Linked DNA regions of Homo sapiens. The protein of the gene in region 2 interacts with the protein of the main gene of each other region in a pairwise test. Each region holds a gene or a part of one and is shown on either strand. Other genes may lie near its edges.

The links.
Region 1: the proteins of FHL5 (region 2) and ZNF131 interact in binary tests that used the Homo sapiens proteins (3 or more experiments, as listed by UniProt).
Region 3: the proteins of FHL5 (region 2) and GARIN6 interact in binary tests that used the Homo sapiens proteins (3 or more experiments, as listed by UniProt).
Region 4: the proteins of FHL5 (region 2) and HAPLN2 interact in binary tests that used the Homo sapiens proteins (3 or more experiments, as listed by UniProt).
Region 5: the proteins of FHL5 (region 2) and ZNF250 interact in binary tests that used the Homo sapiens proteins (3 or more experiments, as listed by UniProt).
Region 6: the proteins of FHL5 (region 2) and ZNF764 interact in binary tests that used the Homo sapiens proteins (3 or more experiments, as listed by UniProt).
Region 7: the proteins of FHL5 (region 2) and ZNF564 interact in binary tests that used the Homo sapiens proteins (3 or more experiments, as listed by UniProt).

The regions. Positions count from the first base shown.
Region 1 is NC_000005.10:43,137,914-43,141,413, forward strand, and holds part of ZNF131 (zinc finger protein 131), read left to right. Parts: intron 1-1,251; coding exon 1,252-1,396; intron 1,397-3,500. UniProt on the Homo sapiens protein: Plays a role during development and organogenesis as well as in the function of the adult central nervous system. May be involved in transcriptional regulation as a repressor of ESR1/ER-alpha signaling.
Region 2 is NC_000006.12:96,611,628-96,615,127, reverse strand, and holds part of FHL5 (four and a half LIM domains protein 5), read right to left. Parts: intron 1-3,500. UniProt on the Homo sapiens protein: May be involved in the regulation of spermatogenesis. Stimulates CREM transcriptional activity in a phosphorylation-independent manner.
Region 3 is NC_000012.12:99,646,477-99,650,552, reverse strand, and holds GARIN6 (Golgi-associated RAB2 interactor protein 6), read right to left. Parts: upstream 2,801-4,076; 5' UTR 2,379-2,800; coding exon 1,764-2,378; intron 1,266-1,763; coding exon 1,155-1,265; 3' UTR 439-1,154; downstream 1-438.
Region 4 is NC_000001.11:156,618,096-156,622,214, reverse strand, and holds the start of HAPLN2 (hyaluronan and proteoglycan link protein 2 precursor), read right to left. Parts: upstream 2,801-4,119; 5' UTR 2,708-2,800; coding exon of another isoform or gene 2,680-2,707; intron 2,247-2,679; coding exon of another isoform or gene 2,057-2,246; intron 336-2,056; exon of another isoform or gene 287-335; intron 1-286. UniProt on the Homo sapiens protein: Mediates a firm binding of versican V2 to hyaluronic acid. May play a pivotal role in the formation of the hyaluronan-associated matrix in the central nervous system (CNS) which facilitates neuronal conduction and general structural stabilization.
Region 5 is NC_000008.11:144,894,954-144,898,453, reverse strand, and holds part of ZNF250 (zinc finger protein 250), read left to right. Parts: intron 1-3,221; exon of another isoform or gene 3,222-3,311; intron 3,312-3,500. UniProt on the Homo sapiens protein: May be involved in transcriptional regulation.
Region 6 is NC_000016.10:30,555,575-30,559,734, forward strand, and holds the start of ZNF764 (zinc finger protein 764), read right to left. Parts: upstream 2,801-4,160; 5' UTR 2,609-2,800; coding exon 2,413-2,608; intron 2,273-2,412; coding exon 2,159-2,272; intron 537-2,158; coding exon of another isoform or gene 534-536; coding exon 1-533. UniProt on the Homo sapiens protein: Zinc finger protein that functions as a cofactor for steroid hormone receptors, such as NR3C1/GR.
Region 7 is NC_000019.10:12,524,873-12,527,482, forward strand, and holds the end of ZNF564 (zinc finger protein 564), read right to left. Parts: coding exon 1,574-2,610; 3' UTR 501-1,573; downstream 1-500.

The DNA.
Region 1 (3,500 bases), on a different chromosome or scaffold from region 2:
TATGCAACCACATGGATGAACCTTGAGGACATTATGCTAAGTGAAGTAAGCCAGTCACAGACATAAACTGCATATTTCTATTTATATGAGGAATCTAAAATAGTCACTTCCACTCATATGAGCTATCTCAAATAGATTGAAAGAGTGGAATACGGGTTGCTAGGGGCTGGGAGGGAGGAGGAAATGGGCAGTTACTAATCAGTGGGCATAAAGTTTCAATTGCGCAAGATGAATAAACTGGAGGTCTGTACAACATTGTACCTAGAGTCAACAATAGTGTACACTTAAAAATGTGTTAAGTGGGTAGATCTCATGTTCTTATTACAATAAATGTTAAAAGGTTTCATTGAACATGTGACATTAGAGTTGGACCTTTAAGGGGTGGGTGGTAGGATGAGTATAACCAGAGATGAAATGATTAAGCATCCAACTAGGAGGGTGTTAATAAAGGCAAGTCAGGCTGGGTGCGGTGGCTCACGCCTGTAATCCCAGCACTTTGGGAGGCTGATCGGGCAGATCACTTGAGGTCGGGAGTTTGAGACCAGCCTGACCAACATGGGGAAACCCCATCTCTACTAAAAATTCAAAATTAGCCAGGCGTGGTGGTACATGCCTGTAATCCCAGCAGCTCGGGAGGTTGAGACAGGAGAATCTCTTGAATCTGGGAGGCAGAGGTTGTGAGCCAAGATCACTGTATTGCACTCCAGCCTGGGCAACAAGAGTGAAACTCCATCTCAAAATAAATAAATAAAGGCAAGTCAGCTATTAGAAAGTGCAGGGTTTGTTTGAGAAATAGTATATAGTGTGTGTGTGATGTCGTTTAAAATTTGGAAAGGTAAATAGGAAAATAATGTGAAGGGCCTTGAAATAAAGTCAGAGAGGTACTAAATTTTGTTTGCTAAGTTGTGAAAAGCTATTGAAGATTTTGGAGCTGAGTTGGCACAGCTGTAATCTCCCTGGCAAGAAATGTAGCATGTCTGACATGTAATAGCCAATTCATATATTTGAGTGATAGAATCTTACTGTTCTCCAAGAGCCTCAGGAAATTTAAAGTAGTTTAAGATTTTCCAGCTAGGTAGTGCTGAAATTTGGCTGTAATATTATTGTATTGCTAATGAGAATTTTTCCAGAAAATAGTTTTCAAAAATAAATACTCAACAAGCTCCAAGCCCTGGGCTTTTCTTTCTTTACTAAACATTGTAAGATTTGAGTCAATATGATTACATGCTCTAATGTACATCTTCTTTACAGGTGTTAGTAAAATGGCCTTTCGCCATTTAATTGAGTTCACATATACAGCAAAATTAATGATACAAGGAGAAGAAGAAGCCAATGATGTATGGAAAGCAGCAGAGTTTCTACAAATGCTAGAAGCTATCAAAGCCCTTGAAGTCAGGTACTTAATTTCTTTAATGGGGTTCAGATAGTCATATTCAGTCATGTTCATTCTGTTAGTGAAGAACTTACAGTATGTGTCATGCCATGAAGAACAGAGTTCTTCAGAAGAATTAAGAATATTTAAGGATCTATTAAAAAATTTTCTGGATACTGATTGTTCTTTCACTTGACTTTGATTTTCTGATCATGTGTTAAAACTGCTAATATTAAAGTAGCATCTTTGGTATGTAATAAAATAAATCTAGACAGCTTTTTAAGGATCTGGATCCTTATAAACTGTTTTGTTGGATTCAAGTTATTGTTTATACCAAGCCTTATCCTACAAAGGGTTTGGCTTACAAAGATTAACATAATACTGTTTAAAAATAAGGAAATAGATGGAAATAAATAAATTGGTTTAATAAGGAGATAATCATTTCAAGTTAGAAGTATGATAGCCAAAAATGCATACCATAAGTCTATAGTAGATGTGCTAAATCTAGCTCTAAGTGCACCTAGTTCAAAGAAAAAGACTATTCAGTTACATTATTCCTTGTTAGAAGATGAGAACAAATCAATTGCTGAGGAGCCATTCCTATTCCTAGTATTAAAATTTCTCCTGAGAAGTATTAAGAAAACATTAGGCCAGGCCCAGTGGATTACGCCTGTAATCCCAGCACTTTGGAAGGCTGAGGTGGATGGATAGCTTATGCCCAGGAGTTCACAAACAGCCTGGGCAACATGGTGAAACCCTGTCTCTACAAAAAATACAAAAATTAGCTGGGCATGGTAGTGCATGCCTGTGGTCCCAGCTACTCAGGAGCTGAGGTGGGAGGGGAGGATCACCTGAGCCTGGCAAGGTTGTGGCTGCAGCGAGCTGTGATCACGCCACTGACTGCATACCAGCTAGGGGGAACAAAGTGAGACCCTGTTTTTTTAAAAAAGAGAAAACGTGAAAGGATATAATGAACAAAGACCTCAACATCCTTACTTGATGAATAATGGCAGTGTAACATAGTTACTAAGAATAAGAGCTCAGGAGTCAGTTTCCCTGGGTTAACATCCTGCTTCTACCACTGTGTGGCCTTAATTAAGTTACTTAACCCTCCTGTCAGCTGTGTCCTCCTCTGTCAAATGAGAGTAATAACGGTACTTTCTACATGGGATTTGATTGTGAGGGTTGAATGAATTAATGCATGCAAAGTGTTTAGCATGGTGTCTGGCTAAATGACTCTGAGTACTCTAAGTATGAACTATTATCTCCTGGTACTGTTTTTTATGTTTCTCAATACAGATCATTGGCCTGATGCCAAAACAGTTTGGTAAAATCAGTTTCACATAGCGGCACAATGATTTAATCTTAACTCACTGTTGTGGTTTAGTTAAAAGATAAAATTTATTTCTCTGAGGACTCTACTGGAATTTTATTTTATTTTATTTTTTTGAGATGGAGTCTTGCTCTGTCTCCCAGACTGGAGTGCAGTGGCACAATCTCGGCTCACTGCAACCTCCATCTCCTGGGTTCAAGCAATTCTCCCTGTCTCAGCCTCCTGAGTAGCTGGGATTACAGGTGCCTGCCACCATGCCCAGCAAATTTTCGTATTTTTAGTAGAGGTGGGGATTTCGCCATGTTGCCCAGGCTGGTCTCAAACTCCCAACCTTAAGTGATCCGCCTGTCTCAGCCTCCCAAAGTGCTGGGATTACAGGTGTGAGCCACTGTGACTGGCCGAATAAAAGTTTTTTTTTAAGAGATAAAAATTTAGATAACTCTAAGAATACTGAACTGTACTCGTCCATAAATATCATCTCTTAGTTTGACAGTTCAAGATTAAACCTTTCTGACAAGAGCTTGATACGTATATATATTCTTTGATGCTTAGCACCTGGCATATAGCAGGTGTACAGGAAACATTTGTGAATAGATAGATGGATACATGCTAATTAAAACCAGATCAGTACTCTTGCAGAGAGACCTGAGCATGGATGTCAAAATAGAGATGCATTCTGAGGATATAAACCTGATCAGGCCATCTCTTCTCAAAAAGATTAAAGGAAATATATATGGATGGGGCGATGTCAGATTGTGGTTAAATATTGAATGAGAGCCTTCCAAAAGAATGTTC
Region 2 (3,500 bases):
TTTAGTTTTCTTCTTTCCCCTCATTTTTCTGTGCTTAGTTGTACTTAGAATATGTCCTGGGGTTATACGGTTTGGGACACTATTTCTAGAAAGCATAACCAAATAGAGGATTTTGTCTAATCATTCAGCCATCCTAACGTGATGGCCTTATTACCTTGCTCAGAGCCAGCTTCAGCTTTTGTTGAATCTGGCCAATGAAGCCACGTTATCACGTGATTGGTTTCTAAGAGCTTTGTCAGCCTCCTCCACTTTAACTTGGGCCTCACTTGAACCATACTGTTTCTTTAAAAAGTAGTCGAATTTGAATCTTCGGTGAGGGTCTGATCTCTGTCTCCTTAATGTGATTCCAGGGTATAGTTCAAGAAATTGATTTTGAGAAGTTACATTAAAGGAGAAAATGTTAGGGTTTGGGAAGAGGTTGAGATGCCCTAGGCTTGGGTCTTTATTTATTTCATGTTTTCTCCCAGTAATCTTAGTGCTATTATTTGCTTATCATCCATGGAGTGAGGCTAAAAGAGTTATGTAATTCATATGTAATTTCCAAATACTCCATTTGGAATGGTGAAGTGAAAGGGTGAATAGCATTCTATTTCAGATACATTCTTCTTAAATAGGATAATGAACTTTTGTTTCCATCCTAACAAACTTATTTGATGTCTTCATATATAATTTAGTAGTTCATACAGAAAATTGCATCAAATTTCTCTACTTTCCTTGATTAAATTTATAGCTTGCTTATCTATGATGCTATCAACATTACTTCCTAATAAATGTAAATTAATTATGTACTACTTAATTCCCTTAATGTTATTCAAAACATTAATAAGCTGACTGCAAGAGTAATGTTCTGTATATACATAAATTATGCTGTTCATAAAACTAATTATTACATGTCTAGCATTTTGATGCTCATGAGTTTTTCTTAATTTTATTAGTAAGCCTTGTACAAGTGGCAAATATAAAAGCAATTCTTCCGGAATTTTACAAATAAGAAAAAGTAGAAGCATCTGGCAACTTTAAGAAAGGGCTGAACCAACATGTGAGATGTATGTAAACTGTTCCAAAAGGAATATGTTTACTCCCTTAGGTCATGAGGGTTGTTTGCAGTAAGAAAGCCATTCATGAAGCAGGTCTTTGACACCTGTGTTATCTGGTTTCATAGGTTTCTGACAAGTCAGTAGAATAAGAGCTGGCATTTGTTGAGTGCTTGACTGTGTGCCAATTACTATTCTAAGTCCTTTATGTGTGTTACCGTATACAGCCCTCACCTTACCTTCATGGGGTCAGATATTAGCATCAGCCCCACTTTGCAGACAAAAACTGAGAAGTGAGAAGTTTAACCGCTTGCCCCAGGTCACCCAGCTAGTAAGCAGCAGATCTAAGATTTAAGCACAGGCCAGGGCCATCTGTCTTTAGAGTCTCTGCTTTTAACCTCATGAAACTAAGTTTGAGTTTATCTTTGGTAAAGAATATGATCAGGAACATCAGCATCACTCTCTGAAGAAGCCACAACATTTGAAATTCCTTTTCCTTGAAATAAACAGAGATGGAAGAAAGCCAACCTGCTCAACTGCTTGTTTTATAAATAAGGCAAATGAAGGCCCCCCACCCCTGAGGTGAGTTAGTCACCCATGGTGACACAGCAGTGGGGGCAGGGAGGACCAAGTCTTTTGCTCCTCAGTCCAGAGCACCTTTCACTGCATCAAGCAGCTTCATTTATCCCTGATAGTTTAAGAGGTTAATCCTATCTCAAAGGAGGAGAAAATATGGTAGCTATATCTGGAGTTTGTTCAAATGAAGCAGTTCAATGTGATGGGTTTTAAAAATTACACTTGGTGATTTATGGGTAGATTTCTCAGAGCTTTTTAAAAAAATAATTGATTAATCTTAATTGACAAATAAAAATTGTACATATATTATATAACATGTTTTTGTATATGTATGCATTGTGGAATGGCTAAATCAAGGCAATTAACATATCTATTACCTTATCATATGCTTTTTTGTGTGTGTGGTGAGAACATTTAAAAATCTATTCTCTTAGCAATTTTCAAGTATATAATACATAGTTGTTAACTATAGTCACTATGTTGTACAATAGATCTTGAAATTATTTCCCCTGTTTAACTGAAATTGTGTATCCTTTGACCAAGAATACCTAGCTTTTAAAGTGACATAATAATCAGATTAATGCCAATTTTCCGAAGACGTGTGACAATATCAGAATTCCCAATGGTACATCAGTTCAAATAGCTCAATTTTAAAGAAGCAGTACTTCAGGGCCTATAGATATTTAACAATTAGATGAAGAAATAGTAAAGTGAGTTGTAAGTTTTTGCAGGCATTTCAGCCTCTGGTGTCTCAATCACAAAGTTAAAAAAAAGATTAAGATAGTTATTAGACATTTCCTGTGGACTGATGAGTCTAAATTAAATATATAATATTTAGATTACTTTTGGGTAAAATTTAGATTACTTTTGGGTCAGATTATTTACTTTTGATCATCCTCATGTTTTTGTGCAGAACAACGTTGTTTTTCCATCTCAACTTTAAAAAGCTGGGCCCAGTGATTGATCTGGAACAATCTATGAAAAAAATCACTTAGGCACATGAATCTGTGATATACCAGAATTGAAACTCAAGTTCAGGGCTTGTGTAGGCTTTTTGCAGATCAGTATTAGCCATCTGGATCTCCAGAGAATTTTGAAACTTATTTTGAGTTGTTAATTTCCTTATTTTCTCATTGAAGTCCCCTTTTTTTTTCTGTCCCAATTCAAGATAAGTGTTGTTATAAAATAAATGGACTGTGATTGCAGATTTTACTTGGGAGATTCTGGAGCTCCAGGTATTGTTGGATATCTGAAAGTCCCATTTTCTAACTAAAATCAGTGGAGATCTCTTGGCTATAGGAATTGTCAAATTTGTAGAAGGCAGGAGAGCAGGGTAATTAAAAGCATGGACCCTGGAGCCGAGTGGTGTGGGATTGCTAAGGCAAGTTCTTGCAAGGGCCAGGGAGGTGATCTAGCTGAGTGATGCAGACAGGGTGCAAGGGACAGAGAGGGCATGCCCCATGCAATTGGACAGCCACGAGTTCCATATGATGGTGACCCTGCTGGGGAATGTGGAGGCAGTCTGCTCACCCAATGGCAGGCTCTTCCTCTACTTTTAGCTGCAGAGATGGATTTTACATTAGTTATTTCCAAACATGTTCAGGCCAAACATCAACAGCCTGCTTGCCAGATGTAGCCCGTGAGCCAGTGTGAGATCCTGACACAGATGGTGCTCCATATAGACAAATAAGACCATGCTGTTTTTTTCTGGTGACACCCTCCCTCCCTTTGCAAGTCAGTGAAAGCCTGCCAAGGTGGGGTTTGCTGTGAAACTTTTTCTTTTGGTTGGAAAGTGCATGAAGACTCAACTTTTATTTTGCCACATATTTGAAGATGAAGAAGGAGGAAAGGGATAAAATGATCTTTAATTCTATGGTATATGAACAACTA
Region 3 (4,076 bases), on a different chromosome or scaffold from region 2:
TGCAAAGCAGTTAATTAAGATTTAAGAAAGGAAATCAAGAATGAAGAGACTGGGAAAATTAAGCCCTTTCTGGAAAGTATGATTAAACTCAGAATTTGTTTCTCAACACTACCATTTACACAGTGCCTACTATGTTCCAGATATTATACATGTATGGTCTCAAGGTGACCATTTAAAGAAACAATCTACTGAAACTCACAGTTAATGTGTGGCAATGCTGTGATTCAAACCTGGAGAGAGAGAGGAGAGAGAGAGAGAGTCTGTGTGTGTGTATTCCTGGGTTCTCATTTTATATTTTGGAAAACAGTTTTAGAATAATTCTCCTAATGTAGGATCATATCTGAGAGTAATCTTCAACATTTTATTCTGTCATCTATTAATTTATTTAAAAAATATAAAGTTAAGGGAAAGTTAAAGATAGTTTTCAGAGCCTGATCATAAATTGCCATTAGTTTTATTGCTACCCTTCCTGTCAATAGAGCATATGTTATTAGAGCAGATAATTTGAGTTGATGGATTTTATTATGGTGAATCACATTGTTCCCCTCCACAGTCTTAGGTGAGATGTCCACCTCTGCACCATGTGTAGTACTGGGCTTTGAGGTTATTACTGCAGAGTCAATCCAGCTAGGTAGAGACCCTCTGGCTTCCATCCCATTCACGCATGTGGCCTCATCCTGCAGAGTTGAGATAACTGACTCCCAATGCTGAGTAGCAGAGAGTCAGCCTTTGAGTAGCAGAGAGATACTGTCAATGCAACAGCCTTCTCAGTATCTCTCTGCTCCTGTAGCCACCACATTCATACTGCTCTCTAGGGAGAGGCCAGTAGCACTTACTGATATGCTTGAAGTACCCTTTTAGGACAAGAATGTGCATGCAGCCCTTGCTATAACAAGATTAAGACATGGAAGCACCCACTAATAGCCATGCTGGCTATACTTCCTCCTGGACCTCTGAAGGCTGCTTTTGCCAGTGCTGTGTTTCTCTCCTGAGTCTGCAGACTTGGTTGCAGCCACATCCATGGTACCTGTGGTGGTGCTTACTGTCATCACTACTGCTGTTGCTACCCTGCCCCTTCATCAGGCACTATAGGTTTTATGACTGCAGGGGTGTGTGAACTCTTGAACGTAGTATATGTGGGAGGTATGTTGGATTCATATCTCTATTGTATAATCACAATAGGTGGACCCAAACATTTCAGCATTCATGTGAAGTCTACTGATTCTGAATTGCTCCTTCTCTTCACAAAACTTCATGGCATATCCCTAGGGAGAGAACAAATAAGCAAAGACAGTGAGACCAGCAAGATCTCCTTTCTCTTCCTATAGGTAAACAACAAAAAGAAATTATTGCACAAGTACACAAACATGTTGTGTTGCCACCAATGTATATAAGTGGCAATTGCAGGGAGACACGTCCTACAACATATCAGCCTGCCTAGGTCATAGTATGTGTTTCAGAATAGACTGGTCAGGATGCTTTGGACAGCATTACAACATTGATATAAAATGAACAGCTGTGGATATAAAATGAAGAGTTGCTGACAGCTAAGAAATCTCTGAAATTCAGGCTTGGAGAACCCTGGAGAAGCACTAGGAACCTCCTCAATGTACCATGGCCTCCAAATGGAAGCTCATTTGGCCTTCAGACCTTCCAAATGCAATGCATTTCCCAGGTGAGCTGCAGCACCAAAGGCTTTACAGGACCTGTACCTGCTCTCCCCCAAAGCATCCAGGCCCCATCTAGTCTCTGCATAGACTCACCACTGGGCTCCTCTGCACTTCCTCCAACACAGATGAGTCCAATGTGTTCCCAGCTAGGATAGCCCTGGTATCACTGTAAGCCTCCACTGGTGGTCTCAGGATGTAAACAAGGTTTTCCCAGTGAACAAAAAGGTCTTCACTTGCATCCGATGGAGGACACAGCTGAAGATAAAAAGAGCGGCCCGTGGCAAGCTTCAGGTGGAGCTGTTTTTTTACGCTGTTGTGGATGGTTATTTTCACAAACATCAAGGGAAGCAGCCTGGTTAGTTCTAAGATCTCTGCAGGCGGACTTTCTCTTTTCTGGGTGGCAGGACCACACCTGGCATTGTCACAGACAGCAGCTGGTCGGGCCAGCAGCATGACATCAGGTAGTGTGAGGCAGGGGCTGGTGCGAACGATGCCCATTGTTACCATTCGGGCACGGTTGTGCACGTCAATCACTTCTCCTCTTTTGCTGATCTGGATAAAGTCGCTCTCAAACATGGGTGCATACCTGAATATAGTATACTCGCCTTTGTACAGTTGCCGCTGCAGCTTCCCCATGGAGGTGTTAAACATGCCCATTGCGGGGCTGCTTTGGGCCGTGTAATACGGTAGCATACAGCAGTCCTCCATGTCTTCCTTTAAATCAAGACAGTTCCCAGCAGCTGCTCCACACCTTCCTTAACATGCTTTAGCGGGCATCCTGTTTCCTTGGCTACTCTGGCAGGTGGGCCAGCAGTCGTGTTCTGCAGGCTTTCTTTTTTGTCCCCAAGTGACTGAGAACAGGGAGGGTGGGGTATTGATTACCAACCGCTCAATGCCAGAGACAGTCAGTCCCCTGGATCCAGACTGTGCCCTGCTTAGTGCATGGAGCTGTCAGGAGCACAGGTGTTGGGGCCCTCGTGGATGTCCGGGCACACAGGTGTCAGTGCTCATTCGGGAGGGACCTCCATTTGAGCCTGATATTCCACTTCACAACAGCCTTTGCTCTTTGATTCCACAACCTTAACTGGCAATCCCACTGCTCTTCTTCCCAACCTGAACCATCCACTGCTGCTAAACCACCCCGCAGGACCACTTTTATCCTCCCCTACCCATTGTGACCTGCCCCATCACACACCCCTTTGTCTCTGTCACCCAGTAGTCCCTGCCTCAGAGCAGGGGCACCGCCCTCTCCACCCCACCCTCAGCCCCACCGCCCTCCACAGCTCAGCAGACCACTACCCCGCCACCAACCTACCATCTAGGGACCTTAATGCATTCTGGCAAATTGCTTTCAAAAGGGTTAGAGGTAAATTTTCTGTGCAAGGCAAGAGTTTAATATACATTCTCTGTATACTCATTTATCCAGCTCCTCTAGTTGTAGACATTTATTTTAAAGAGAGAATTGGATAAATTGGTAAACAGATTGGTACAGGATGTTTATCAATGTTTGTTGTAGAGTAAAAAATTATAAACAGCATTAGTGTCTTACAATAGGGGATTGCTTAAATAAATTATGGAGCTTCTGTGACGGGACAGTCTGCAGCCCTAAAAATGATTACGTAGTTTTCCTATTTATTGACATGAAAAGATATCCCTGACCTTTTTTTTTCTTAAAGAATAAGAGAAAAACTGATTTCAAACTCATAGTATAGGTGAGATTCAATTTATGTAAGACCACGTGTATGTGTTTGTGGATATGGAATTATGTTCAGTGAAATGTTTAAAGTGCTTAGGTATAATTTTCATTTTCTTTTTAACTTCTATTTTTATTAGGAAATTTATTTCTGTTACCAGGGGAAATAACTATTTTATTGGCAATGTATTTTTTTTTTTCTGTTTCTATAGCCATGATAAATTTTATGTTTTGACTCACCCTCAAACTGTTGATGCAATTTTTGAGTTTTACCTAGACATTCATACCCTGGCTATGGAATGAAAAGAGCCTTAAACATCACATTTATGCTCTATTCTTTACCATCAGATTGTATTGAGAAAAAAAAAAGCTGTAAAGAATTTTGCTAGGTATTGCAAATATTTTCAATTCAATAAGATTATAATATCTTTATTGAAATGACAGTACACATGATAACCCATGTGAACACAAACACACACACACACACAGAGCCATAGCCATAGTTGAGTCTTTTTTTTTTTTTTTTTTTTTTTTTTTGAGATGGAGTCTCACTCTGTCACCCGGGCTGGAATCAGTGGCGTGATCTTGGCTCACTGCAACCTCCGCCTCCTGGGTTCAAGTGATTCTCCTGCATCAGCTTTCCTAGTAGCTGGGACTACAGGCGTGTGCCACCACGCCCGGCTAATTTGTATTTTTAGTAGAGATGGGGTTTC
Region 4 (4,119 bases), on a different chromosome or scaffold from region 2:
GCCTCCCAGAATGCTGGGATTACAAGCATGAGCCACCACACCCAGCCAGGACTTTTTTTGTCTTACAAGTACTTTTATTAGCACCTAAACTTAACAGTGTGAATTTGAACATAATATGTATCCACATATAGATACAGAAATTATGAAGTTAAAAAATATAAAATTATAAAGTTATTTTTAAAAACTACTTCAAATGCAATTATCTATTTCAGTACTGTAGTTATTCCCCCCTTTAAATTTGTTTTGTGTTTTTTTTTTCTAGATGGAGTCTCGCTCTGTTGCCCAGGCTGGAGCACAGTGGCACGATCTTGGATCACTGCAAGCTCCACCTCCCGGTAAAAAAAATTTTTTAATCAGATACAGGGTCTTACTAGGTTGCCCAATTCCTGGGCTCAAGCAATGCTCCCACTTCAGCCTCCCAAGTTTGAGCCACTGCACCCAGCTCCTCCTTTATTGTAACATTCTTTTTTTTTTTTTTTTTCTTTTTTCTGAGAGGGAGTTTCACTCTTGTTGCCCAGGCTGGAGTGCAATGGCACCATCTCAGCTCACTGCAACCTCCACCTCCCGGGTTCAAGCGATTCTCCTGAGTAGCTGGGACTACAGGCACCCACCACCACTCCGGGCTAATTTTTGTATTTGTAGTAGAAACAGGGTTTCACCATGTTGGCCAGGCTGGTCTTGAGAACTCCGGACCTCAGGTGATCCACGCTCCTTGGCCTCCCAAAATGCTGAGATTACAGGTGTGAGCCATCGCCTCCAGCACCTATTGTATCATTCTTATCCCTCTGACCTTAAAAAAAAAAATTGGACTGGGCCAGGCACAGTGGGTCACACCTGTAATCCCAACACTGGAAGGCTGAGGCGGGTGGATTACTTGAGATTAGGAGTTCAAGACCAGCCTGGCCATCATGGTGAAACCCTGTCTCTACTAAAAATACGAAATTCAGCTGGGCGTGGTGGCATGCACCTGTAATTCCAGCTACTCGGGAGGCTGAGGCAGGAGAATCGCTTGAAACCAGGAGGTGGAGGCTGCAGTGAGCCAAGATTGTGCCACTGCACTCCAGCCTAGGGGATAGAGCAAGACCTTGTCTCAAAAAAAAAAAAAAAAAAAATGAAGACTTCTTGACTTCACTGCATTCGTTTTCCAAATCTGGCTACTCTATTTCCTAATTGCATGACTATGCATAAGTTAATTATCATGCACAAGTTCCTTAACCTCTCTCTGCCTCAGTGTCCTCATCAGTGAAATGTGGGGAATAATAGCACACCTACCTCACTGAGTAGTTGTGAGGAATAAATAAATTGATATACGCAAAATGCTTGAAATAGTGTCTGGAATGTAATAAGTGCTGTCTATGTGTTAGCTGTTATCTCCAGTTCCCAGCATAGTTTCTGGTACATAGTAGGTGCTAAATAAGTGTGTATGGTTTAATGAACTTACATTAAGGATTCATGGGAAGATGGGATGGGGAATGGGGAGATGGAGGAAGCACCCTGAGAAGTTGCCAGAAATCTAAAGAATGGAGCTCCATCTTTCTGCAAATGAGGACCAAAGACCAGTTTGCAGTAGGAGAAACGGAGGTTATGCATAGAAAACTTCTCAGTGGTTAAAGGTGAAAGTATCTGGGATGCGAACATGAGCAAGAGAACCACTTCTTTATAGGAGAACTTGATAAGTAAGAATGATCGTGAGGACTGAGATTGACTGAGACCAACAATAATGATAGCTCAAATGAACACGTTTAAAATTGAATGTGCCTGACACTGCTCTAAGCACTTTACATGTATATTTTTATATTTACTCCTCCCAGCAATCCTGAGGCAGAAACAATTATAAATCCTACTGTACACATGCTGAAACCAAGGTGCACCTATTTTAGGAAATGAGGTCACACAGCTAGTAAGAGGAAGGGTTTGCTGGGATTTGAATACAGATCTGACAGTGAGGCTCAAGCGCTTAATCACTAATCTATATTTCTGCATTTCAAAACAGTGCACACACATGCTCTTCATACCTCTTACAGAAAATGAGAGTAGTCAGCAGCCCATTGCCTACCTGTTAGAAGCTGGTCTCTTCACAGAGACGGAGGGAGCAGTGCTTAGCAGCTTTTTGTCTTGCTTGAGGAAGAGGTTCTGGATGAAGGTTTGCCAGGCTCCTGGGAGTTCCAAGCACCTTAAAACCCTGGAACTTGAGCCCCTGTTCAACACAGTTGCTCCTTTTGCACCTTTGAGGAAAAGCTTCTGTCCTGTGCTCAAAGAAGAAGCCAAGGTGCCAAGAACGACCCCCACCCCCATCAGTCCACTAAGCCATGTTAAGAGACCTGTGTCCAGCCCTGTGACTATATCTGTGGAAATCACTATTCCGGGACCAGGGGAAGATGCTGGGGTTGGGATGAGGGCTGGGAACCCATGAAGGGGAGTGGAATAAAGGGAGCAACCCAGGAATGATGACCTGGAAGAGTGCAGAAAGTGAGGTGCTTCATTTTTTCTCGATGCCTTTGAACCAGAGAGGTGTAGATTGATCGGTGGATATGAAGGTGTTGGACTGATGGGGATGGGGATGAACTCTAAATGTGGCTCAAAGATCCATAACTGCCAAGCTCGAGCTGCCTCCCTTTCCATATGCGCCTCATCTAAGCAGCATCCCCATCTCCCCTCTCCCCACAACAGAGTACTCACCTCTGCCCTCTGGTGCCTGAGTGCGCATTGCCTTTGCAAACAGACTTTCAGGTGGGAACTATCCAGGACTTCCAGCTGCTTCAAGAAACCGGACCTCTTCTGTACAACCCCCTGTCTGTCTGTCTGTCTGTCCTTTCCTTCTCAGTCCCCACCCCATCGGAAGCACAATTTCCCATTGTCTCTGTCTTTTCCCCTATTGTTGAATAACAGGGCCCCTTTCTTTATTCTGTGGGTAATGGCAATGAAATGTCAACAGCTGGGGATGTGGGATGCAGGACCGGCTGGCACATACCACCGGAAAAGGGCCTGGGTGGGGGGCGGGCTCAGAACAGGAATTGACATCCCCAAGAAGAAGAGAATAGGGTGAGGGGCAGAGAACGGATGGTGAAAAGGTTGAAATGGAATCTCTCTCAACACTCCAAATTACAGGGCTCTAAAGAGATTTTGTCTGAGGCCAGGGGAAAGGCTGGGCTCCATGAGGGCAGAGGGAGTGGCTAGCATTGCAATAGGAGAGATGGAGATTAGACAGCAAGGAGGATTTTTCTGTCCCTGGGGAGGAACATGAGAATTTCTGAGGACAGAAGGACTTTGGAAACCTCTCCAAAAGAGAAGTTATCTTATTGGTTCCCTAATATTCTACCTCTTCCCTCAGCACAAATAGATAACCTTTTTAAAGTACTCAGAAGGGGATCCTTAATCTTCCTGGATGGAAATTCACTTTCTCTCAAGTCTTTTTTTTTTTTTTTTTTTTTTTTTTGAGACGGAGTCTCGCACTGTCGCTCAGGCTGGAGTGCGGTGGCACGATCTTGGCTCACTGCAAGCTCCGACTCCCGGGTTCATGCCATTCTTCTGCCTCAGCCTCCCAAGTAGCTGGGACTACAGGCACCCACCACCACACCCGGCTAATTTTTTGTATTTTAAGTAGAGACGGGGTTTCCCCGTGTTAACCAGGATGGTCTCGATCTCCTGACCTGGTGATCCGCCTGCCTCGGCCTCCCAAAGTGCTGGGATTACAGGCGTGAGCCACCGTGCCCGGCCTTTTTAAAATTTTTTTTTTAAGACAAGGCCTCTATCTGTTGCCCAAGTAGGAGTGCAGTGGCCCAATCATAGCTCACTGCAGCCTCGAACACCTGGGCTCAAGAGATCTTCCCCCTTAGCCTCGAAATTATCTAGGACTACAGGCGCGCACCACCACACCCGTCTAATTAACTTTTTTTTTTTTTTTTTTTTGAGACAGAGTCTGGCTCTGTCACCCAGGCTGGAGTGCAGTGGCGCAGTCTCGGCTCACTGCTACCTCTGCTCTGCCTCCCGGGTTCAAGCCATCCTCCTCTTTCCTCAGCCTTCAGAGCATCTGGGACTACAGACGTGCGCCACCACGCCAAGATAATTTTTGTATTTTTTTGTAGAGATGAGGTTTCATCATGTTGCCCAGGCTGGTCT
Region 5 (3,500 bases), on a different chromosome or scaffold from region 2:
CTTGTTTCTTGTTGCTATTTGTTGAATAGATTTTTTTCCATTCATATTTTCTGATTAGGTGTTACTGGTATATAAGAAAGCTATCAGTTTGGTTGTTTTTTTGTTTTGTTTTGTTTTGTTTTGTTTTGTTTGTTTGTTTATTTGCTTTTTTTCTTTTGAGATGGAGTCTCACTCTGTTGCCCAGGCTGGAGTGCAATGGCGCGATCTTGGCTCACTGCAAACTCCACCTCCCAGGTTCAAGCAATTCTCATGCCTCAGCCTTGGGAGGAGCTGGAATTACAGGCACGTGCCACCACACCCAGCTAATTTTTGTATTTTTAGAAGAGACGGGGTTTCACCATGTCACCCAGGCTGGTCTTGAACTCCTGACTGTTGGGATCAGGCCCCCCCAAAATCTGGCTATAAACTGGCCCCAAAACCGGCCATAAACAAAATCTCTGTAGCACCGTGAAATGTTCATGATGGCCATAATGCCCACGCTGGAAGGTTGTGGTTGTGGGTTTACCGGAATGAGGGCAAGGAACACCTGGCCGGCCCAGGGTGGAAAACCCCTTAAAGGCATTCTTAAGCCACAAACAATAGCATGAGCGATCTGTGCCTTAAGGACATGCTCCTGCTACAGTTAACTAGCCCAACCTATTCCTTTAATTCGGCCCATCCCTTCGTTTCCCATAAGGGATACTTTTAGTTAAATTAATATCTATAGAAACAATGCTAATGACTGGCTTGCTGTTAATAAATACGTGGGTAAATCTCTGTTCAGGGCTCTCAGCTCTGAAGGCTGTGAGACCCCTGATTTCCCACTTCACACCTCTATATTTCTGTGTGTGTGTCTTTAATTCCTCTAGCGCCGCTGGGTTAGGGTCTCCCCGACCGAGCTGGTCTCAGCACCTGACCTCAGGTGATCCACCCACCTTGGCCTCCCAAAGTGCTGGGATTACAGGCATGAGCCACTGTGCCCGACCAGAAAGCTATCAATTTGGATACATATTTCTGATCATTAATTCTGGAAAGGTTGCAGGTTAGGGTTAGTTTAGGTTAGTTAGGGTTAGTTTAGATTAGGTCAAGTTTAGCAGTGTTTCGCCTTGTGCTCACAAGTGGCTCAGAAGCTGCCTCTCTTGAAAGTGCTTTCACCCTAGCGGGTAGGGGCTCCTTGGTGATGAAGAGGGAGCAGTGCTTGTTAGCAGAAAGTCCAGGGAGTGAGGATGATGAGGAGCAGGAGAAGGCAGTGGCCCTGGAGGAGATCCTGGAAGCTCATCCCAGATCAGGAGACTCCAAATGTGCCTGTCCCAGTGTGTGACCATGTGCAGGGTCCTCTGGAATGACAGGCACACTGCTTTGTCACATCAAGACAGTCAGGAATTCCAAAAAGAGTGATAGGAATGTCTCACTGCGATGTGGCTTTTGATCACCTAAAGAAAACTGGAAAGCCAGTTGCTGCTAATAACGTTGATCTATTGTTTTTGTTTTGGATTATTCCTTAGGGAAATTTTCAAGATTGAAATTCCTGAGTTTGAAAAATTAGCTCCTTATGCTGCCACCTTTGTAACCAGTGGGTGGGAGGGATCATTGCTCAGCCAGTGCCCTGAGTGGGTGTTCTTTATATTGCCCATTTGTTAGCTGTTGGCATGGCCTCAAGAGGGGGCTCCTCAAACTCCACTTCCAGTATTCTGTGGCGGTGATCTCCAGCCTGTCCCAGCCCCTGGCCCTGGAGCCTGGCATCTATAGAGGACTCGTCATTAGCCTGTCTTAATTTTTTAAAACTGTCCACATCATCCTCCTTCCCTGCCTGAACTGTGTTCTCATGGAGCAAAGCTTGGAGTTGGACGTCAGAATCCCGTGAAGTGTGGATGGAGTGTGTTGTTAAAAGCCAGTTTCTGGCACCCCCGATAGCTCTTACATTTTCCTGTCTTGAGTATGCAAGGTTTAGGTTGAGGTCCATGGTGTTTGCCTGGCCTGGTATCCTGTTACAGGCTCGTTCCAGGAAACTGAAACCTTTATCTGCCATAGTGTAAGTAAGGAAAAAATTTAAACTAGTTAATACCACTTTTAAAATGTATTTTGTTCATATTTTTTTTTAATTTTTATTTATTTATTTATTTATTTTGAGACAGGGATTCATTCTGTTGCCCAGGGTGGAGTGTAGTGGTGCAGTTACAGCTTACTGCAGCCTTGACCTCCTGGGCTCAAGCAATCTTCCCATCTCAGCCTCCAGAGTACCTAGGTCTACAAACCAGCTAATTTTTTAAATTTTTTTATAGAGACGGGGTCTCACTATATTGTCCAGGGTGTTCTTGAACTCCTGAACTCAAGCAATTCTCCCACCTTGGCCTCCCAAAGTACTGGGATTATAGGTGTGAGTCACCATGCCCAGCCATTTTTGTTCATTTATTACCAGAATACAATCAGACTTTGTGATAGGATTTTTTTTTTTTTTTTTTTTTTGAGACAGAGTCTTGCTCTGTTATGCAGGCTGGAGTGCAGTGGCACAATCTTGGCTCACTGCAACCTCTGTCTCCCAGGTTCAAGCTATTTTCTTGCCTCAGCCTCCTGAGTAGCTGGGATTACAGGTGCCTGCCACCATGCCTGACTAACTTTTTGTATTTTTAGTAGAGACGGGGTTTCACTATGTTGGCCAGGCTGGTCTCGAACTCCTGACCTTTTGATCCGCCCGCCTCGGCCTCCCAAAGTGCTGGGATTACAGGTATGAGCCACTGCGCCTGGCCGATTTTTTTTTTAATTAGCAATATGTGATGGTCATCTTTCAATAGAGACCTGATACTGCATTTTGTGTGATGCTTTTCTAAGACTCACCCCAGGTGGCAGTCTTTCCCTTTCACTTCTCCTTGCCACACACTTGTTGACAGCCTGGTATTGTCCTTTGGAGTATTTCCTCTGTGTGTTAATCAAATAGATAATAACACCTTATCCAGCAGCATCCTCCTCTGAGCCAAGCCTGTTCTTAGCGCTCTCCTCTCACCAACCACATGATCTCCAGGCCTTCAGAGGAGTGTGTCATCTGGATTTATAGGTGGGGCCTCAATGCAGCTGGCCCAAGTGAGGCAGGTGAACCAGTCCCAGGTCCTTGTGACACACATACCCTTCATGGGCTCGGGGTCATAGTTTACAAAATGAGATTTTCCCCTGCATGCTGGCCCCATGCTGCATTTTCACTCACCCATCTGGTGACCTGACACAACATACATCTTTCTCTTTAGCAGGTGTGTAACTTGTATGTGGAAGGACCAACGTAGCATTTGCCTCAGCAACATCCTTGAATCTGCACCCTCACCCACATCCATTCTTATCAGGTACCCACTATCCAAGGGCCAGTCTGATTTGCCTAAATACTGCTAGGTCGCCTTCTTAAGAGTATGAGAAACTCCACTTTCCCATGCCTGCCAGTTTAAAGTGTTGACTCCGTACTTGGCTATTACAGATGGCATAAAGTGTGAGCTCATTCCTCTTCATTCATTTATTCAACAAACAGGCCGGGTGTG
Region 6 (4,160 bases), on a different chromosome or scaffold from region 2:
GCTGTGCACGCGCCGGTGCTGGTAGAGGGCAGAGCTCTGGCTGAAGCGGCGGCCACAGTCGGCGCAGCCATAGGGTTTCTCGCCGGTGTGGACGCGCAGGTGCGAAGTCAGCGCCGAGCGCTGCGTGAAGGCCCGGCCACACTCCAGACAGCGGTGGGGCCGCTCCCCACGATGGATGGCCCGGTGTTTGCTCAGGGAGGAAGCGTGGCCGAAGCCCTTGCCGCAGTCAGTGCAGTGGAAGGGCTTCTCGCCAGTGTGACTGTAGACGTGCTCCACCAGTGTGGAGCGCCAGGCAAAGCTCTTCCCGCACACGTAGCAGCCATGACGCTGGTCAGCTCGGGGGACAGGGGGGTGGGCACAGAGGGAGGGGCGTCCCCGGTGCGGTGCCTTGGACAGCTGCTCCCAACCATAAGGGGGCCCGGCCGAGGGGGCTTGGGGAGACTTCAGCCCAGGAGACCCGGCGGCCACAGGGTCGGGCTTCTCCAGGGCTCCCGTCCCTTCCCTTTGTCTTTCCTTTTTCTTGTTTCTGGAATCTGCTGAGAGATAAAGAGGGGAGAGTTCAGGCTCGGCTCATCCTGGTCCTTGAATCCCACAGCCCGCGTGGACAGGGACAGGCCTGCTGGATCCCCGGCTGCTCCTGGGAGATGGAGGAGTGACACCTGTTCCTCGGCTGCAGAGCCAGACAGAGCCGGGAGGGAGAGAACAGCCCATTCCGCCTCGGGGCTGGGGAAATGTCACGGTGGGGGAAGGGCAGAGATGACATGAACATCTGGGCCTGATCCAGAAGGAGGAACGGACACCTGAGGATGTTCCAGGCAGCAGGAACAGCACCAAGAAAGGCAGAACCAGGAGGGCATGGCCAAGTTCAGTGGGGCTGGATACTCTGCAAAGGCTGAGGGCAAGAAATGAAAGAAAAAAAGGGGGGCGGACGGGGAGAAAGGAACCAGCCTGCAGGTGAACGGCAGGGGTGGGTCCTGAGGTGGAGGTAGAGTCAACAGAGTTTAAGAGACTGGGCGTGGGGGCTCAAGGCGGTAATCCCAGCGCTTTGGGAGGTAGAGAAGGAGGATCAGCCTAGGATTTCAGGACCAGCCTGGGCAACACACCGAGAGCCAAGACCCCCTCTATAAAATATATATATTACATAACAATTTAAAACAATTAGGCCAGACGCAGTGGGTCACTTTGGAAGGCCGAAGCAGGCGAATCGCTTAGCTCCAGGAGTTAAAGACCAGCCTGGGCGACATAGTGAAACCCTGTCTCTACTAAAAATACAAAAAATTGGCTGGGCGCGGTGGCTCACGCCTGTAATCCCAGCACTTTGGGAGGCCGAGGCGGGCAGATCACAAAGTCAGAAGTTCGAGACCAGCCTGGCTAACATGGTGAAACCCCATCTCTACTAAAAACACAAAAACAAAATTAGCCGGGCGTGGTGGCGGGCGCCTGTAGTCCCAGCTACTGGGGAGGCTGAGGCGGGAGAATGGCGTCAACCAGGGAGGCGGAGCTTGCACTGAGCCGAGATGGCGCCACTGCACTCCAGCCTGCGCGACAGAGGAAGACTCTGTCTCAAAAAAAAAAAAAAAAATTAAGCAGGCTTGGTGGCGGGCGCCTGTAATCCCAGCTACTTGGGAGGTTGATACAGGAGAATTACTTGAACCTGGGAGTGGGAGGTTGCAGTGAACTGAGATGGCACCACTGCACTCCAGCCTGGGCAACGGAGTAAAACTCTGTCTAAAAAAAAAAATTACCCAGGCTTCGTGGCGAGCACCTGTACAGTCTTAGCTACTCTGGAGGCCCAGGTGGAAGGACTGCTTAAGCCCGGGAGTTCCAGGCTACAGTGAGCTATGATGCCGCCACTGCACTCAGCCTAGACAACAAAGCGAGACCCTGTCTCTAAAACAAAAACACCAAAAAAAGCCCCCAGAGTGTAGTGACCACGCAGAGGTGAGGACTCAGAGGCGGGTATGGCAGGGCCAGAGCCCCCATCACAGCTCCTTTCTAGGCTGCATCTGGGAGCCACGCAGGGGCTCAGCCTCGTCGTCGCAGTTGAGAAGGCAGTTCAGAGAGGAAACTGCTAAGCAGGTAGCTGGAGGTGGCAGAGGGTACCGGGATGGGACAGGAACAGAGAAGTCCCCATGGGACTGAGCACCCGATACTCCACCTGGGTCCGTTTGTGTCTGACATTTCGCCACCTCCGGATCCTGGGCAGCCGGACCCCACAGTTCGGCCTCCTCCTCCACCCAGGAGATGAGAGCTGGCTTGTTGCCTCCGATTCCTAGGGAAGAAGAACGCAAACCCCACGCTGCGGGGAGGCCACCTGCCCGGCCCCGGGGCCCCCAACTTCACGCGCAGCTCCCAGAGGCGCGGCAGGGCCTGTGGGGGCGCAGGGCTCAGGCGAGCAGGTGGGGCTCTCACCGAGAGCGCTCAGGTGGCCGTAGGTCTCCCGCATCACGTCCCGGTACAGGGCCCTCTGCGCTGGCCGCAAGCAGCCCCACTCCTCCCGGCAGAAGTACACGGCCACGTCCGCGAAGCTCACAGCCCCCGGCTCCCTCCACTCGGGTCCGGCCCCGTTTGGGTCCCGGGGAGGGAGCGGGGCCAGAGGCGGCGCCATGGTAACTGTCAACCCCGACGACGGATCGGCTGCCTCCCCTGGCCTGGCCTGGGCCTGCGGAACCTCCTGCGCCCGAGAAAGCCTCCCCGGCCCGGGCCCAAGGGAAGGAGGGAGGTTACTAGGGCCCCCGAGGGCGCACTAGAGGGCGTGGAAACTAACGGTGCCGATGGCAGCGGGTGTATAATCAGAAATGGAATATGCCCTCATAAAAAATGGCGGCGGCGCGGGTACTCGACCTTTGCCCCTACGCAGTCGTGCCCAAGACAACGCCCCCGGTATCTCCAGTCCGCGTTCTCTCCGTACCCTCATCCAAAATGGCCGCGGTGACTAATACAGAGGCCGGCCTTGAAAACTAGCCGCGCATGTTTAGTCCCCGGCCCGGCGAGGCGGTGCAGCAGAGAGCTCCGCCCCGGCCCGGCGAGGCGGTGCAGCAGAGAGCTCCGCCCCGGTTTGCACGAACAAAAGAGCGCCTCGCGGGAGTGAGCTGGCCTCCCGGCCTTACTGAACTCAGGCATTAGTTTTCGTTTGTGGACCGTTTTATAATCGGGCTCCAGCTCATCACTCTCTCGTTTTGTCCTTGTTATCTCAGAAACAGGGCAACAGCAGTCTCTTCCCAATGTTGAGTGTAAAAAAACCAATGGAGTGGGCGTGGCGCAGTGGCTCACGCTTGTAATCAGCAGTTTGGGAGGCCGAGGCCAGCGGAACAACTGAGGTCAGAAGTTCGAGACCAGCCTCACCAACATGGTGAAACCCCGTCTCCACTAAAAACACACAAAAAAACAGCCAGGTGTGGTGGCGTGCACCTGTAATCCCAGCTACTGGGGAGGCTGAGGCAGGAGTATCGCTTGAACGCGCGAGGCGGAGTTTGCAGTGAGCCGAGATTGCCTCACCGCACTCCAGCCTGGGCGACAGAGCGAAACTCTGTCTCAAAAATAAAAAAGAAAGAAAGAAAGAAAAAGGAGTGGATACAGGAGAACCTCCTCCATCGTAGGCTTGTTGGGGCCTGAAATTCTGGAAGTTTCTAGATGGCGGAGGCAGTGGGGAGAGTAGGGTAAGGTTGAGAAAGTCAGAGGGTCCTCTCTTCTAGGAGCTTCTCCCATGTGCTGCTCAGGACGCCTCCCAATTGCCAGTCTCCCTGTAGCTGCAGCCGGGCTCTCACCTCCCCTCACATCCTGCCCCTGGACAGATGGCCCAAGGCTCCTCTACTCAAATCCAACTCATCCCTTTCTTGCCCCAATCTGCTTCCCCTAGGGTCTTTATCTAGTAAATGTCACCAACTCTCCCCCAGACCTCTCTCTCACTTTCTGATGGTCTATTCTGTGCTCCACGTGACTTCATACATGTCCTGTTGTAGCAGGACAAGCCACAGACAAAACCCCTCAGACACCGAGTTGAAGGAAGGGTTTTATTCGGCTGGGAGCATCGGCAAGACTCACATCTCAAAAACCGACTCCCCGAGTGAGCAATCCCTGTCCCTTTTAAGGGCTCACAACTCTAAGGGGGTCCCCGTGAGAGGGTCGTGATCCATTGAACAAGCAGGGGATATGTGACT
Region 7 (2,610 bases), on a different chromosome or scaffold from region 2:
ACTTTGTAAGACTCAGTAATATTCTCTTGTATGTATAAACTTCCTTTTGTTTATTCATCTGTTGATGAAAACCTGAGTAGTTTCCAGAGTTTACCTATTGTGAATGATGCTATGTACACAGGTGTACAAAACCTATTTGAGACTTTGCTTTCAATCTTTTTTGTTTTGTTTTGTTTTTTGAGACGGAGTCTTGCTCTCTCACCCAGGCTGGAGTGCAGTGGCGCGACCTCAGCTCACTGCAAGCTCTGCCTCCCGGGTTCATGCCATTCTCCTGCCTCAGCCTCCCGAGCAGTTGGGACTACAGGCGCCTGCCACCACGCCCGGCTAATTTTTTTTTAGTAGAGACGGGGTTTCATCATGTTAGCCAGGATGGTCTCAATCTCCTGACCTTGTGATCCGCCTGCTTCGGCCTCCCAAAGTGCTGGGATTACAAGCGTGATCCACCACGCCCGGCCCTGCTTTCAATCTTTTTATTTTCCCAGAAATGGAAATGCTGATCATATGTTATTTCTATATTTTAATCTGGGGATCTGCCATACTGTTTTCAGCAGGCTTATACCACTGTACATTCCCAGTGATAGTGCACAATGTTCTCCAACATTCCACATCCTTGACAGTATTTCTTGTTTTCCATCTTTGATACTACTAATCCTAATGAGATGCTATGTATGTCTTGAGTTTGATTTGTATTTCCCTAATGACTAAAGATGTCGAGCATTGTTACGTGCTTATTGGCCATCTGGGTATCTTCTTTGGAGAAATGTCTATTCAAGTCCTTTCCTCCATTTTAAAATTGGATTGTGTCTTAGCTTGGGTTGCTAAAACAAAATACCATAAATTGGAAAGCTTAATTAATCAACAAACATTTATTTCTCATGGTTTGGGAGGCTGGGAAGTCCAATATCAAGGCACTGGCATAGTCCATGTCTGGTAAGGGCCTGCTTCCCGGTTCAAAGATAGCTATCTTCTCACTGCACCCTCTCATGGTGAAGGGCAAAGCTAGCTCTCTAGGGATTCCTATCAGGAAACTAATCCCAATTACAAGGCCTCCATCTTCATGATGTCCTCCAATCCTAAAAACCACCAGAGACAGGGCCTCCAAATACCATCACATTGTGGGGGAGAGGGGGGGCACGGGGGTAAGGTTTCAACATATGAATCTGAGGTGGCATACACTCAGCCAAAACATTACACCTCTGGCCCCCAAAATCCATGTCATCACATGTAAAATATATTCATCTCATCCCAAAGGCCTCAAAAGTCTCAGTTAATTCCAGCATGAAGCCTAATGTTTAAACTCAAACTCCAAAGTGTCATCTCAATATCACATCACTCAGATATGGATGAGACTCAATTCATGCTGAGGCAAAATTCTTCTTCAGCTCCGAACCGGTGAAAACCAAACTAGTCATGTATTTCCAAAATATGAGACAGGCACAGGATAGAGATTCCTATTCCAAAAGTGAGAAACAGGAGAAAGGGGTGAGCTCCCAAACAAGTCTGAAACCCAGAAAGCAAACTGAAGACTTTCCATATTCTTTAGATATGTAGATACTTGTAGACCTGTCCTCCACTATTCATTTTCACAGGTATTCGAAGGTTGTGTGATAAATGAAAGCTTTCCCACATTCTTTACGTAAGGTTTATCTCCATTATGAGCTCTTTCATGTCTTTGAAAGGAACTGGAATAACTGAACGTTTTTCCACATTGCTTACATTCATAGGGTTTTTCTCCGGTATGAGTTCTTTCATGTATTCTAATGGAACTGGCATAATTGAATGCTTTCCCACATTCTTTACATTCATAGGGTTTTTCTCCAGTATGAGTTCTTTCATGTGTTCGGACAGAACTAGGACAGTCAAAGGCTTTACCACATACCTGACATTTATAAGGTCCATCTCCAGTGTGCAGTATCATATGTTTTCTAATCCTTTTAAGAGAAATGAAGGCTTTCCCACATACCTGACATTCATAGGGTTTCTCTCCAGTGTGAGTTCTTTCGTGTATTTGAAATGAACTGGGACAGTCAAAGGCTCTACCACATACCTGACATTTATAAGGTCCATCTCCAGTGTGCTTTATCATGTGTCTTCGGACACTTGGGAGAGAAATGAAGGCTTTCCCGCATTCCTTACATTCATAGGGCTTCTCTCCAGTGTGAGTCCTTTCATGTGTTCGAACATTACTGGAAGAACTGAAGGTTTTACCACATTTATTACATTCATAGGGTTTCTCCCCAGTATGAGTTCTTTCATGCTTTCGAACATAACTGGGAAAAATAAAGGCTCTCCCACATACTTTACATTTATAAGGTCCATCCCCAGTGTGCCTAATCATATGACTTTGAAAATTTGTGAAAGAAATGAAGGCCTTCCCACACTGTTTACATTCATGGGGTTTCTCTCCAGTATGAGTTCTTTCATGTATTCGAAATAAACTGGGGCGGTCAAAGGCTTTTCCACATTCCTGACATTTATAAGGTCCATCTCCAGTGTGCCTAATCATGTGTCTTTGAAAACTTGGAAGAGAAATGAAAGCTTTTGCACATTCCTGACATTCATAGGGTTTCTCTCCAGTGTGAGTTCTTTCATGTATCTGAAATAAACTTG